Linked DNA regions of Homo sapiens. The protein of the gene in region 2 purifies or fractionates together with the protein of the main gene of each other region. This does not show direct contact. Each region holds a gene or a part of one and is shown on either strand. Other genes may lie near its edges.

Evidence for each region. Proteins that work in one complex are often made in the same cells at the same time.
Region 1: the proteins of KPNA1 (region 2) and NUP153 purify together in Homo sapiens (affinity purification with mass spectrometry; 3 studies listed by BioGRID and IntAct, with this or other methods). This does not show direct contact.

The regions. Positions count from the first base shown.
Region 1 is NC_000006.12:17,630,395-17,634,048, forward strand, and holds part of NUP153 (nuclear pore complex protein Nup153), read right to left. Parts: intron 2,451-3,654; coding exon 2,256-2,450; intron 1-2,255. UniProt on the Homo sapiens protein: Component of the nuclear pore complex (NPC), a complex required for the trafficking across the nuclear envelope. Functions as a scaffolding element in the nuclear phase of the NPC essential for normal nucleocytoplasmic transport of proteins and mRNAs.
Region 2 is NC_000003.12:122,421,375-122,424,797, reverse strand, and holds the end of KPNA1 (importin subunit alpha-5), read left to right. Parts: 3' UTR 1-2,896; downstream 2,897-3,423. UniProt on the Homo sapiens protein: Functions in nuclear protein import as an adapter protein for nuclear receptor KPNB1. Binds specifically and directly to substrates containing either a simple or bipartite NLS motif.

The DNA.
Region 1 (3,654 bases), on a different chromosome or scaffold from region 2:
CACGCTTGGAATCCCAGCACTTTGGGAGGCCAAGGCGGGCAGATCACCCGAGGTCAGGAGTTCAAGACCAGCCTGGCCAACATGGCGAAACCCCATCTCTACTAAAAATACAAAAAAAATCAGCCAGGCATGGTGGTCTGTGCCTGTAGTCTCAGCTGCTTGAGAGGCTGAGGCAGGAGAATTGCTTGAGCCCGGGAGGTAGAAGTTGCAGTGAGCCAAGATTGCGCCACAGCACTCCAGCCCGGTCAACAGTGAGACTCCACTTCAAAATAAATAAAGAAAAGAAAACAGAGGAGAGCAGAGGAGACGGGAGACGAGAGGGGAGGGGAGACAAGAGGGGAGAGGGGAGGGGAGAAGGGAGGGGAGAGGGGAGAGGGGAGAGGAGAGAAGAGAGAAGACAGGAGAGAAGAGAGAGGAGAGAAGAGAAAAGAGAAGAGAGCAAGCATTATACTGACAAGATCAAAGTCTTGGTTTCATAATGCTTTTCTGCAGCTAAGGAAATCAGAAATGAAGTACTTGACCTACTGGCTCAAAACAAGGATCATTAAGAAGTACTAAGATACTTAAAAGTATGGTGATTACCACACTACAGGTAGAGAACAGTATAAAAAGGGGAGCATGAATTAACAGCTACAGAAAGAGATAAAATGAACCAGAAAGCACAAACTTCTAAAACACTTAAATGCAGTGTTTTTCAAACTGCTAGTTGTATACCATTAATCATCAATTAATTTAGCAGGCTGCAACCAGCACTTCTCTTTTAAAATAAAATAAAACAGAAAATACCAGGGAACCTTACACCTACCAGAGGCAAGTATTATTTTGCAAAACAGATTTCAATCATATAGACATATACGCTGTGCAGGTGATGGCTCACAATATAAAAGGTTTATTCCTGACTTTTGGTTTGCAATCAAGAGTTTGAAAGCTAATTACAAAGTAGATAAAGCTTGCTATTATTTTTGTTTAATTTGTATAAATTTAAGGATTACCAGTGCAATTTTGTTACATGGATATGTTGCCTGGCAGTGAAGTTTGGGCTTTTAGTATATTCATCACCCAAATAATGTACATTGTGCCCATTAATTAATTTCTCATCATCTACCCCCCATCCCATCCTCTCACCGTTCTAGGGGTCTACACTCTGTCCACTGAGTACACTTTATTTAGCTACAACTTATAAGTAAGAAGATGAAATATCTGTCTGAGTTGTTTCAAGACATTAATCCTCACACATTTTCTCCTTGCGGGCTTACTCTTTTACAGAAGACTTGAAAAATCTGGCCTCCAGACCAGGCGTGTTGGCTCACGCCTGTAATCCCAGCACTTTGGGAGGCCGAGGCGGGTGGATCACGAAGTCAGGAGATTGAGACCATCCTGGCTAACATGGTGAAACCCCCGTCTCTACTAAAAACACAAAAAATTAGCTAGGCGTGGTGGCAGGTTCCTGTAGTCCCAGCTACTCGGGAGGCTGAAGCAGGAGAATGGCATGAACCCAGGAGGCGGAGCTTGCAGTGAGCAGAGATCGGCCACTGCACTCCGGCCTGGGCGACAGAGCAAGACACCATCTCAAAAAAAACACAAAAATCTGGCCTCCAGTTAGTTTAGGATTAATTACTTTGAGGGAGTCTTCCTTTGTACTTATATAGTAAAATATTAAGAGTTCTTTTCCTGGGACCTACTTTGGGAAACCAAAGCCACAGCCTGTATCGCTTTTAATTTAGAGGTGTATTCCCAGTCAAATAAAAGTCAGTAAGTTCATCTGGGCGCGGTGGCTCACACCTGTAATCCCAGCTACTTGGGAGGCTGAGGCAGGGAATTGCTTGAACCTGGGAGGCGGAGATTGCAGTGAGCAGAGATCGCGCCCCCGTACTCCAGCCTGGGCAAAAGAACAAAACTGTCTCAAAAACAAACAAACAAACAAACAAAAAAACAAACAAACAAAAAAACAAAGAACAGTTCACCTAGGGGGCTAGCAGTTAAAAACAAAAAACAAAAACTCTCTGAGGCTCAATGACACAAGAAATTTTTTTTCCCACCTGGAGAAAAGATACCTCACTGTTGACAAGCAACTAATATGACCTTACAATATTCAGAAACAGATATAACTAAAACATCTCAGGATAATCTCATTTTATATTAATTTTCAAGAGAGAATGAGTGAACACTGAAGCTGTTCTCAAATACTTCATTTTTAAATGGCCTTACAAAAAGGCGCTTTACCATCACCTTTATTTTTATTTTTTTGGCCTTACCTTTAAACCCAGATTTTGTGCCTGGCTTTGCACTTTCACATGCCAAACATTTGGTAGAGTCTGCCTTATTCTGCACTAGGCACAATTCACAGTCCCAGCTTCCCTCGGGTTTCTTGAACTTTTCCAATCCTAGAGAGCCTCCAGAAGGCAGAGAGACAGGTACAGTGCTGCTACTTGAAGCAGGTACTGAACTTCCTAAAAAAAAAAAAAAAAACGGGGAGTGGGGGGAGATTTCATGAAAATTTTAATTTACAGTATGTCAGTATCTTAATGGCACTGCTAAGTTTAAGTGTTCAGTTTCTAATAATATTTCCTATTAAAACACAGAATGTGCCAGAAATAGACAACTGTTCATATTTACATTGTTTAAAAAAAAGAATAGACCTCTCTTTTAACCTTATAAATGATTTCTTTTAACCTTATAAATGAGCAGCTCATAATCACCTTGCTCACTGGTGAGCTCCCCCTTAACCACATGTTTGAACTGCTGTGGTTTAAGAAAAAAAATCATGCTCGCAAATTAGGGGCTCAAAGACTAAATTTTTCTTAAGAATCTTTTTCAAATTTCTTCAAAGCAGCAAGCATTCTAAGACATAAGATGTAAATTGTAGGCAATATCCTAACATATAAAATACACAGCCACAGACCATATGAATTTCAAGATTTGAAAGCATAGATCTCTGCCTCTGAATGATAGCTTTTGCACAGAAGTGCATCTACTTCACATCCACTTCACAATCTAACTTGACACCTACTACATTCCTGACATTTGTTACATGCTAGCCATTTAACAGACATTTATTAAGCATCATAATATACTTGGGTTCTGGGGACATTAAAGATGAATAAAATGTTGCTTAACTTGTAAGATGCTCATGGTCTTAAAGGGGGAAAATAAAAGCACAGTGGCACCATCACCAAGTGACAACCTAAAACAAGTGTGCAAAGAAGGAAGAAATGACTAAGAGGCAGGAAAAGGATACACAGAGGTGACAAATCTTAAGCAAAACTAGCATGTTTGTGGGAGAGGTGGCACAGGAAGAACGGCTTGGTAAGGCCCAAAATATAGTGCTGACAGTGAAGCCATTCATTCTGGTATTCCTACTTCTCTAGATGGCCTACAACTGTCGCCACCTCTTCCATAGTTACCTAACTGATCTCTACATTTTATAGGTATGTTCTCTTCCATCTTGCCAACCAAATTGCTCCCTGGGGTTCCATCTTGGCCCACTGTCCTCACAAACTCTCATTTACTCCAGTGGTTTTTAAATCCCCAAAAAACAGTTTCCTAATCTACACCTGCAATCTACACTTCTGAGCTTGTCACTGTAGTCTCTTAGTTGGTGACTCCACTGTCTTACTTGGTTAGCTTGGCTGGATACTCCTCCTCCTCTACATT
Region 2 (3,423 bases):
GTAAATTACTAGTAACATGTCATTTCTATAGGATGTTTTAAATTATGTACCTTCCATTGGATAGTTAAAATAATTTCATTTTATAAGCCAATTTGAGTGGGAAAGATACAAAGCACACAGTTGTCTCCCCACATTAGGAAGAGTAGTGTGCATTCAGACATTCGGAATTTTTGCTAGTAGTTGGAGATGTTTCAGTGAGTGAATTAAAACAAAGTCTATTTAACTGACGTGATCTATTTTGTGTCTAAAACAGAGGAATTTATCTTGTCCTAGAAGTTCATGAACTATAAGATCTAAGTTTTTTTTTCTTTTTTAACAATAAAATGATTTTTTCTTAAAGTATCAAAGTTGGAATTGGCTAAAAGTGAAGTAGCATAACTCAGATATGTTGGAACTTGGTACTGAAGCAGGCTTTTTGGTAACAGAAATGACATTTTAAGGGGTAACTGTATATCCTGTTTTTAGTTCTTTGCCTCTCAGATTCTGTTAACTTAGTTTAAATTCACTGAATACCCTACCACTAAGGCGTTGCTCATTACAAAAGCATGTTAATTTCAATACAGGAAAACTCTTTTGTAGTTTTATATATGGATTGGGGAAAGTGACTTTGTTTTACTTTTCCTTTTTATTCCCCTCCATCCTCCAAACTTCCAATCTATATTATTTGTAATGAGAACTTTGGTGGGGGAAAAAAAGCATTAAGAGAATTTTGGATGTAAAGGCATCTGGTATCTGATGGACCAGCAGGTAGATGTGGTTGGATTGAGAAATTTTGGGTAAGGTAGATGATAGAAGAAAGAGATTTTAGGAGACACAGTTCTCTGTGGAACACTTTCTTTCATGTTCCTGTAACTAATTGATCAAGACCCTTTTAAACGCTTATCTTTGTCAGTTCCGCTTTTGAAAAAACTATTGCCCTAGGATTGTTTCTTCCATATGACAGATGAAGGTTATTGGCTCTGAGTCATTTTTGGCATTATCGTCACAGATAAAAAGATTGGCAATTAATCTCATAAAAAATCTGAATTATTCCAGATTGCTGCCGATTTTTGCCTAAGAAACAATATGTAAGTATATTTTATAAACCAAACTTTGTCAACCAATTCTATTGTACGTCTACCCACAGGCAACTTTGAATTTACTTCTCTAGTGCTAAATAAACATTTCAGCGATTTAATCCCCCAACTTGGGGGATGCATTATGAAAAGGTTTTCCTGGAGTCAAGGGGTTTTTCTTTCTCGCTAGTTTTGTGAAAATTTTTATATCAATAGGCAAATCATTATAACTTTTTAGGGGTTGATGGTTTTTAAGTATATTGGAAATTGTGGTGTCTAAGGATGATGTTCAGTGAAGAAAAGGGATCCACTTTTAGAAACCAGCATTGTTTGCTTTCAACTTTCATACTGTATGCTAACTCCTACGTTCCAAAATGTGCTCATTTGCAGACACAGGTATGCCTATATACATGGAAGTCTCAAATCTGAATTTTTATCCATCTCAATATGACCATTTCTCTCTGTTGTGAGCTGAACAGATTAAGTATATATCTGCCAGGTTGGGAAATATTTTGGTCTATCTTTTCCTGTCATCAGAACTTAATTTAAAAAAATTATCAAAGGTCAGATGTGACTACTACAGTAAGTTGGCTATCATAAAGAATATTCCATAAAATGTTTTATCTGCCATACAAAATTACTGGGTTTATGGCCGGATGTGGTGGCTCATGCCTGTAATCCCAGCAGTTCAGGATTACAGGTTATATACAGGTTATAACAATGGATACCAGGACATCAGAATATCTGATAAAGCAAATATTTATATGCTAATTTAAAATATCAAATTGCTACTGGACATAAAATACATCTGGAAGCTTGGGGTAAGAAGAAAGAAAAGAAGTGTTCCGTTCTGTTTTCAACTAAGGGTAAACGAAGTCCCAGAGTGTTTTCCCTGTAGGTCAAATTAAGGTAACATGTCTTTATTTGATCATCTATTGTACACCAGATACCTGGCTAAGGGCTTTCCTTTTTTCTCATGTAGTCTTCCAAATGTTCTTTGATAATTGTCACTATATTATAGATGACAAAGTGAAGACTTACGAGAAATTACTTTGCCCCAAGGTTACAACACTTAGATGGCTGTCCAAGGGCGGGGAAGAGCCCTGCAAATTCTGTGTCTTGAAGAAAGCAGTGGCCACGCAGTAGTTCCGTGCCCAGGATCTCCCAGAACTAGACTTGGCAACCACAGCTGGGCCAGCCTTTTTTGTTAGACCATTCTTCCTGACTCCTGCTTACCATCAGCACCCTTAAAATGACGAAATCAGGCTTAAGTTGCTTTTAGGTTACACAGACTGGAGTGTAGGCCCTCTCAGGCCAAACATCTTTCCTCTTCTGTGGTGCTAAAATTCTGTATGACCAGACAAGTATGGTAATAGGTTTTTTTTTTTTTTTTTTTTGTGCAAATGATTTTGTGTTTAGTAAAATAATGGCTAAACACATGGATCCATTCAAACGCACAAATGTGGAAAGTATTGACACGGAAGGAAAGGCTTTGAAGAATTACTGCCTCAGGAAGCAGTGCCATGGATGCGAATTTAACACAGTCTACTTCTTCCTAAAGGAATATCATCCCAAGGAATGTCAAAAATTAAAATCACCTTTTAATGTACTGGTTGTTGAGTGTTTCTGCTTTACCTCAAGTCATTCTGACCACTCTACATCCTGCTTCAAAGTGTTCTGACACTTAGATTTGGAATGGCTCTAATGATTCTTTGTACTTGAATGTGGTCTGTCAGGCCATGGGTGAGTGCCTTGCACATAGTAGACATTCAATAAATACTAAATGAAGGAATATGCATGCATCTTTGTGATGTTAGTAAAGGGTGCTTGATAAAAGAAAATTCAAAGGAATTCCCTTATGCTGTTACTTGAAACCAGGATCAACATCTTAAGCAAATGTCTCAACGTGTTTTATATGCAGTTACTTTTCAGAAGACATGATTTGACCTGAAGTTTACAAAATCAAACATTGTCATAGCAGAGGTCTGGTATTTAAAAACAAACAAAGTGTCTTAGAAAAGCTAGTGGCCGGGTGCGGTGGCTCATGCCTGTAATCCCAGCACTTTGGGAGGCCGAGGCAGGTGGATCACGAGGTCAGGAGATCGAGACCATCCTGGCTAATATGGTGAAACCTCGTCTCTACTAAAAGTACAAAAAACTAGCCGGGTGTGGTGGCGGGCGCCTGTAGTCCCAGCTACTTGGGAGGCTGAGGCAGGAGAATGGTGTGAACCCAGGAGGCAGAGCTTGCAGTGGGTGGAGATTGCGCCACTGCACTCCAGCCTGGGTGACAGTGCAAGACTCCATCTCAAAAAAAAAAAAAAAAAAAAAAGCTGATGGGTATATTTTACAGTAAAGAAAAAAATTTATT